Homo sapiens: one gene and its partner. The protein of the gene in region 1 interacts with the protein of each later gene in a pairwise test. Each region holds a gene or a part of one and is shown in the gene's direction. Other genes may lie near its edges.

What was found.
Region 2: the proteins of NFYC (region 1) and SAE1 interact in binary tests that used the Homo sapiens proteins (3 or more experiments, as listed by UniProt).

The regions. Positions count from the first base shown.
Region 1 is NC_000001.11:40,742,963-40,748,079, forward strand, and holds part of NFYC (nuclear transcription factor Y subunit gamma), read left to right. Parts: intron 1-4,571; coding exon 4,572-4,643; intron 4,644-5,117. UniProt on the Homo sapiens protein: Component of the sequence-specific heterotrimeric transcription factor (NF-Y) which specifically recognizes a 5'-CCAAT-3' box motif found in the promoters of its target genes.
Region 2 is NC_000019.10:47,137,335-47,140,834, forward strand, and holds part of SAE1 (SUMO-activating enzyme subunit 1), read left to right. Parts: intron 1-3,500. UniProt on the Homo sapiens protein: The heterodimer acts as an E1 ligase for SUMO1, SUMO2, SUMO3, and probably SUMO4. It mediates ATP-dependent activation of SUMO proteins followed by formation of a thioester bond between a SUMO protein and a conserved active site cysteine residue on UBA2/SAE2.

The DNA.
Region 1 (5,117 bases):
TGTCAGAGCCTCTTAGGTTGACACCTCACAATATCTAACAGATTAAAAAGAAAAAAATTCCTTATGTTTAAACTAGCCAATCATAAGTAAAACTTACGAGAATATTCATAAAATGTGATCTCAGACTGGGACACAATTTGTTTCAAAAAGAAGTAATTGAAGTTTGCTAGATGATATATTTCATGATGTGTTGGAAACACTGGCCTCAAGTCCTTTTGGTCTGCGTCCTGTAAAAGCAATTTATCTTTCATTTTAGCTTGTTCTCATGATTCTTAAAAGCTCTGTAGTTGTCTATAAATCCAGGTGGTGTTCAGCTGGGATTGAAATTAGTTAAAAACCATATCAAGATGATTGTGCACCAGAGTGATTGTGTAAAACCCTATATTCCCGCACAGCAGAGCTCTGGGAACAGCAAATAACAGACTTCTTCGTGTTGAGTTTTGCCCCAGTGGGCCTCTTTGAAAATAGGAAAGAGAAAGCTAACTTTGTCTTTATGGAGGTGAGTTGGGGGCAGGTGGGCAACAATGCTGAATTTCGAAAAGAAAAATCTAATTCTCTACTTACTCTTTACATCCCATTCAGCCTTCACTTAACTGTAATTGAGTGCCTAGGTCACTTTCTTTTAATTGGCAGTTTCATCTTTTCATTCCTCAGTGCCTCCTGATTGGGTGATGACATTTCTAACATTACAATCAAATCAGATAACTGTTTAAACAAGAACTTGGTGATGAAGGTTGGTGGACTGTTACAAAACAGGTCCTGTGCTGTGTGAGCCCTTTCTGTAGAGCAGTGCTTCTCAAACTTTATTGTCTGTATGAACCACGTGAGGGAGGATCTTCTTAAAATATTGATGCTGATTTAGTAGGTTAGGAACGGAACCTGGGATTCTGTGTTTCTTTTGAGTTCCCAGGTGATACCATTGCTGGTCCAAGGACCTTACTTTGAGTAGCAGGGCCGTAAAACAGTAGTCCTTAACTCTCACTTGGATCATAGTCACAAGGGGAGTTTTCAAAAAACATGATGCCAGTACTCTACCCACTAGAGCAGGGGTCCCCAACCCCTGGGCCACAGACCGGTATGGGTCCATGGCCTGTTAGGAACCTAGGAACTGGGCTGCACAGCAGGAGGTGAGCAGCCAGTAAGCAAGCATTACTGCCTGAGCTCCACCTCCTGTCAGATCAGCAGTGGCATTAGATTCTCAAAGGAATGTGAACCCTATCATGAACTGCGCATGTGAGGGATCTAGGTAGCACACTCCTTATGAGAATCTAATGCCCACCCTGCCCATCTCTGGAAAAATTGTCTTGCACAAAACTGGTTCCTGAGGTTGGGGACCACTGTCCTAGAGTTCCTGATTCAGTTGGTCTCCAGGAGAGAGCTCAGGCATCTTGTTTTTCAAAAGCTTTTCAGGTGATTCTAACCTGCAGCCCCAAGATTGAGAATCATTGATTTCAAAGGGTTGAGAATCTTGACTTGCCAGAGTGCCTGACTGGGTAGGCCTGGAAAAGGTTTCTCTTTATTATTTGAAACTCTGGATGTTCTTCAGTGCAGCCCAAGATCTGTTGACTTTTCTTTGTCTCCAAACTCTCATTGAGTGAATTCAGATTTGAATTTGTCTTGAAATGCAGCAGTTTCAGATGGAAGCATTTTTAACGTAGTTCTTTGGTAGTGGTCAGGAGCATGAGAATGTTCTGAGAGATAATCTGCTCTTCTGCCTTACTGATAGAACTCCCAAAAGTAGGGGGGAGCAGTGTGTGTCAGCTGTTCTTCCAGTTGAATCAGTATCAGGAGAAGGAGTTAAGGAGTTAAATGTTACTCACTTCAGTTACATGGTAGCTAGTGAAGTGGGGAGCATGAATCCAAGTTTCGTGGGCCTCAATCTACTGATTGTAGAGGGCCTCCCTTTTCCAACAAGCTTATGGTAAATCCTTACATGTAACTAGAAGGCTAGGATAGGATTATAGAAAACTGGGTGATTGTCAACAGGGATGAACCATACACACCCCTCAAGATCCACTTTTACACACTGCTTCTTGAGATCTCAAGGTTTCAGGAACATGAAAAAATAGTTTGTCACAAAGAAAAGCTTTGGGAAGGGGATTAAAGCAGAGCTTATTATAAATTTCTGCCTCATTTTACATCTCTGCAAGGCGGGAATGATCTCTTGATCCTTGACTTTTGTTGCTTTTGATTAAAGAAGAGAAATTGAAGGAGTAATAGTTTACTCTTTCAATTTGGGGAAAGAGGTCTTTTTTATCAACTTTGGGCTTTAGTTAAGTAATCATGGAACGTTCTTGTACAAATTATATTTAAAACCAAGCCAAACAAGAGCACACTTGCAAGAGAGCTAAATGTATGATCATCTTGTGCTGTATGTATTAGCCTGGGAGGTTTTCCAAAGGAATGATCATCCCTAGCATTCTCTTTGGCATTTCTATGTAGTGTCATCATCTTCTGTGATATGCCACACAAGAAGGAAGACCAGTGGTTGATTTCTGGGATTAAACTTTTAAAAAAACTCTTTAGGATCTGGCCCCAACCCAGTATCCTCTTTCCTGCTTTTCCCCTCTATACTCAGGTAGTAGATCTAAAACTTAAATAGGCTGTGATTTTTTGTCTCTCTCTCTGTCTTTGTTGTTCTGTCTGAATAACATTCTCATACTTTTTCAACAGGCAAATTCCCAGCATCCCTTAGACACAATTCAGATGTCATCCCCTTTGTGGAACATTTCCCAATCCCTCACTCTCCCTCCAGCCCCACATTGCTAGCTGTCCCTAGCAATATGTCCTTCTTTGTGTCCCCGCAGGGGATCCCTCCCCTCCAGTATTGGGTAGGGGATTATAATGTTTTTATGTGACTATCTCTGACAAACCACAAGCTCTTCAAAGGTAGGAGTAGATGTGTATTTTTTTTCTTTCTTTTTTAAATAGTGATGGGGTCTCACTATGTTGACCAGACTGGTCTCAAACTCCTGGCCTCAAGCGATTCTCCCATCTCAGCCTTCCAGAGTGCTGGGATTACAGGCATGAGCCACCATGCCTGGCCTACATGTGTATTTTTTGCATAGTAGTAGGTATCATACATTTACTATTAGTTGAGTTGCTTGAATCAGTAAATGAAAGAGCAAGGGGAAAAACAAGAATAGAATGAACCTGCGCTACTGTTTCCTTTTGTTGAAATTTTAATAAACTGAACTTCTAAGTCTCTGTTACTCCAGGGTTAGTTTTAGTAGAGGGTTCATGGAAAATGTTGATACCTAATTTGGAAAAGGAAAAGATGAAAAATTGGTGTTTGAAGTTTGTAGAGCAGAGTGGTAGCCAAGCAGCTTGTTGGGTTTGCATGGAAAAATTAGATGTCTTGGTGTACATTTTATCCTAATAGATTCTCTTCTTTCTATAATCATAAAATAGGTTCTGGGAAGACTGTTGATGTTTTTCCAAAATACCTTTTTTTGACATATATTTGAGATTTTCTGTTGGTCTTGCAAAAGAAAGTTCACTTATGCTTGTTAATTACATCAAATCTGAAATAATATATGCTCCTTCCATAATGTGATGATGCAAATTCCCAGGTGAGCATATTAGGTTTAGTGAGTCACATTTCAGACCACTTATAGAATCAATCATTTGACACCTAGTCCCAGTAGAGATTTTGCTGATTTTAGCTAATATCTGCCTTTGCACCTTCCTCTTCATTGCAGCTCTGAAACTCAAAATTGATTTTTTTCCTAGAATTGCATCCATCATTGGGCATGTGTTTAAATACCAGTAGTTTCAAAATAAAACAAAAAAGGGCTTAAGTCTCAAATTATTGAGTAGTGCTGATCAAAAAAGCCCTTTCCTAAACTATATCCACAGTGAAGTTATATGGTCCTCCCCCACTCCAGGCTTGTTAAGAAAAAATAACACAGCTGTTCCTAAAAGGCAGCTGACAAATTCACCCTCATCCTTTTTCTATACTCCTCTACCCCCACTTGAAACAAATTTTGGAGACAAGGCCATTGCTACTGTGATGAGAAAGGAGCTCTCCTCCCCAGTTTCTGTTGTCAGGTTAGTGCAAATGTCAGAAATGGCCACTATCAGTTGTAAAGAACTGTGGATCACTGTGGTCAAGTGCCCCGGCGTTGCTGTTAGTTTGGTCACTGAATGGAAGAAAGAACTGGCAGTTTAGAGGAATACCCCTGAGACAGAAATCTCATTTTAATCTGCATATTGCAGACTGGTAAACTTACTTGGAAAAAAAAAGAAGGCGCTCATAATGTCCCTCTATGTTGTGCTGACGAAAAAAAAAAAAAAACAGATATTGCTTGGGGCTGTGTTTCATGAGAGCACTGTTAGAGGCCATCCTAAGCTTTTTCTAAAGCCCATTAATTCTTTGAAGACCTGCATATGTTAAGTAAAGAAGAATTTTGCTCTGGAGCTTGTATTTTCTTCATTTCATCTGTACCTTCTCTCCCGACATACGCTTCCTGAAGAGAGGGACCAAGCCAGAGTGTTTCCTACTGCCTGTCATGCTTTGCCACACTGTTGATTGTCCCCACCATTTATGCATCTCTTGTTGTTCATTTCAGAAAGACTTCCGAGTGCAGGAACTCCCACTGGCTCGTATTAAGAAGATTATGAAACTGGATGAAGATGTGAAGGTGAATTCACATTCATTTTTATTATTTCTTATTGAAGCTAAGTGATGGGTAGGTTATTGCTCATTTCTCTAGAGCTCAAAGTTTAATTAAACAAGAACACACAAAAATTACTGTCTGTTGCTTTGTTATTTGGTTCCTGTGCAAAATTGTTAAGTGAGCCAAAATTGAGCAGTTTTGGTTACTATATGGATCATCCTGAAAATTTTTTAGATGTTGAAAAAATAGTTGATGTTGGGTTTTTTTTTTTTTTTTGAGAGTTTTACTCTGTTATCCAGGCCGCAGTGCAGTGGTGCGAGCTTAGCTCACTGCAACCTCTGCCTCCCAGGTTCAGGCAATTCCCATGCCTCAGACTCCCGAGTAGCTAGGATTACAGGCGCCCGCCACCACACCTAGCTAATTTTTGTATTTTTTGTAGAGACAGGGTTTCACCATGTTGGCCAGGCTGGTCTTGAACTCCCGACCTCAGGTGATATG
Region 2 (3,500 bases), on another chromosome or scaffold:
CCAAGGTCACACTATCGCACTCCAGCCTGGGTGACAAGAGCGAAACTCTGTCTCAAAAATAAATAAATAAAATAAAATAAAGTAAAGAAGCAGCTTCCTAGAGCAGATTTGGTTGCTTAAATTGAGGCCAAGTTTCTGGAGTTTTTATTGATAGTTGACAATTACAACTAAAATTTTTTTTTCTCGCTCTGTTACCCAGGCTGGAGTGCAGTGACGCAGTGACGTGATCTTCAGCTCACTGCAACCTCCACCTCCCGGGTTCAAGGGATTCTCCCGCCTCAGCCCCCAAGTAGCTGGGACCACAGGCGTATGCCATATCACTCAGCTAATTTTGTGTGTGCATGGCGTATGCCGTAACACTCAGCTGATTGTGTGTGTGTGTGTGTGTGTGTGTTGTTTTTTTTTTTTTTTTGTGATGGACTCTCACTCTGTCGCCCAGGCTGGAGTGCAGTGGCACAATCTTGGCTCACTGCAACCTCCGCCTCCTGAGTTCAAGCGATTCTCCTGCCTTAGCCTCTGGAGTAGCTCGGATTACAGGCGCGTGCCACCACACCTGGCTGATTTTTATATTTTTAGTAGAGACGGGGTTTTACCATGTTGGCCAGGCTGGTCTCAAACTCCTCACTTCAAGTGATCTGCCCACCTCGGCCTCCCAAAGTGCTGGGATTACAGGCGTGAGCCACTACACCCGGCCTATGTGTGTGTATTTTATTTTTTTATTTTTTTGAGACGGAATTTCTCTCTTGTTGCCCAGGCTGGAGTGCAATGGCGTGATCTAGACTCACTGCAACCTCTGCCTCCCGGGTTCAGGCAATTCTCCTGCCTCAGCCTCCTAAGTAGCTGGGATTACAGGCGCCTGCTACCGCGCCCAGCTAATGTTTGTATTTTTAGTAGAGACCAGGTTTCGCCATGTTGGCCAGGGTGGTCTTGAACTCCTGACCTCAGGTGATCTACCCGCCTCAGCCTCCTTAAGTGCTGGGATTACAGGCATGAGCCACTGCGCCTGGCCAGAAGTTACCTTCTTTGTGCCTGTTTTCTCAGCTGCAAAAGAGGGGTAACAAAGTGCCAGCCCATTAGATTGTCATGGGAATTAAATGACATAATACATACAAAGAGCTTAGTAGAACAGTGCTTGGCACATAGTAAGTGTTAGATAAATGTTGGCCATTATTATTTTATTATGTACCAGATTTCTATAATTCTGCTGATGGACACAGGTTTGTTTTGGTGTGTCTATTAATTCACAGCCATTTGAGTAACAGTATGTCCTAAATGCCAAGGAAGTTACTGGTTCTAGTGATACAGTGGTTTCTGGAGTTTACATTCTAATGGAGGAGGGGGCAGTAAACATATAAACAAGTAGTGTAGCTTAGCACAGTGGTGTGTGGCTGTGATCCCAGCTACTGGGGAGGCTGAGGTTGGAGGATCACTTGAGCCAGGCAATTGAGACTAGCTTGGGCAACTTAGTGAGGCCCCATTTCAATCAAAACAGTGGGCAACACAGACCCCATCTTAATCAAAACAAAAACAAGTAGCATAATTCGAGATAGAAGAGGATGTGGACCTATTTTAAATTAGGTGGCCAGTATGGACTTCTCTAAGGAGGTGACAATTGAGCTGAGACCTAAAGAATGTGTCCCTTAAGAAGTTGAGGGAAGAAGCAATGGGAAGCACTAATGCCAAGGTCCTAAGGTGGGAGCAAGGATGGGAGCAAGGATGATGTTCTCTAGGATCAGCCTCCCGAGTAGCTGGGACTACAGGCACGTGCCACCACGCCTGGCTAATTTTTGTATTTTGAGTAGAGATGGAGTTTCACCATATTGGCCAGGCTGGTCTCGAACTCCTGACCTCAAGTGATCCGACCGCCTCGGCTAATTTTGTGTATTTTTAGTAGAGACGGGGTTTCACCGTGTTAGCCACGATGGTCTCCATCTCCTGAACTCATGGTCCTCCCACCTTGGCCTCCCAAAGTGCTGGGATTACAGGCGTGAGTCGCCGCGCCTGGCACACCCAGCTAATTTTTTTTTGTTTTGTACAGATGGAGTCTTACTTTGTTGCCCAGGCTGGTTTCGAACTCATGGGCTCAAGTGATCCTCATGCCTTGCCCTCCTAAAGTGCTGGGATTACAGGTGTGACCCACTGCGTCCAGCCTGCTGTAGTTTTGTCGGAGAGAAACGATGGTGGCTCAGACTAGAGTGGTGTTTGTGGAACTTGAGGGAAGTAGATGGACAATGCTGCTGTGAATGTGTATCTTTTTTTTTTTTTTTTTTTGAGACAGAGTCTCACTCTTGTCACCCAGGCTGGAGTGCAGTGGCGCGATCTCGGCTCACTGCAAGCTACACCTTCCGGGTTCACACCATTCTCCTGTCTCAGCCTCCCGAGTAGCTGGGACTACAGGCACCCGCCACCACTCCCGGCCAATTTTTTTTTTTTTTTTTTTGTATTTTTAGTAGAAACGGGGTTTTACCATGTTAGCCAGGATGATCTCAATCTCCTGACCTCGTGATCTGCCCGCCTTGGCCTCCCAAAGTGTTGGGATTATAGGCGTGAGGCACCGTGCCCTGCTGAATGTGTATCATTTTTGTGCCCACTTGGGTATTTCTTTTTTTTTTTTTTTTTTTGAGACGGAGTCTCGCTCTTTCGTCCAGGCTGAAGTGCAATGGTGCGGTCTCGGCTCACTGCAACCTCCGCCTCCCGGGTTCAAGCGATTCTCCTGCCTCAGCTTCCCGAGTAGCTGAGATTACAGGCGCCTGCCACCACTCCCGGCTAATTTTTTTTTTTTTTCTTTTTGAAACAGACCCTTGTTCTGTTGCCCAGGATGGAATGCAGTGGCGCCATCTCGGCTCACTGCAAACTCCACCTCCCGGGTTCACGCCATTCTCTTGCCTTAGCCTCCCGAGTAGCTGGGACTACAGGCGCCCGCCACCATGCCCAGCTAATTTTTTATATTTTTAGTAGAGATAGGGTTTCACCTTGTTAGCCAGGATGGTCTCGGTCTTCTGACCTCGTGATCTGCCTGTCTCGGCCTCCCAAAGTGCTGGGATTACAGGTGTGAGCCACCGTGCCCAGCCCACGCCCGGCTAATTTTTGTAATTTTAGTAGAGATGGGGTTTCACCATGTTGGCCAGGCTGGTCTCGAACTCCTGACTTCAGGTGATCTACCCACCTTGGCCTCCCAAAGTGATGGGATTTGTAAACCCAGCACTTTGAGGGAGGCAGAGGCAGGAAGATTGCTTGAGCCCAGGAGCTGGAGATGAGCCTGGGCAACATAGTGAGACCCTGTGTCTACAAAAAAAAAAAAAAACCCATAAATCAGCCAGGTGCAGTGGTGTGCACCTATAGTCCCAGGACTCAATAGGCCGAGGTGGCGGGATCACTTGAACCTGGGAGGTTGAGGCTGCAGCGAGCCCTGATCTTGCCACTGCCCTTCAATCTGGGTTCACAGAATGAGACCCTGTTTCAATAAAACAAAACGTAAACATGGTATTTGGTGTTGATGG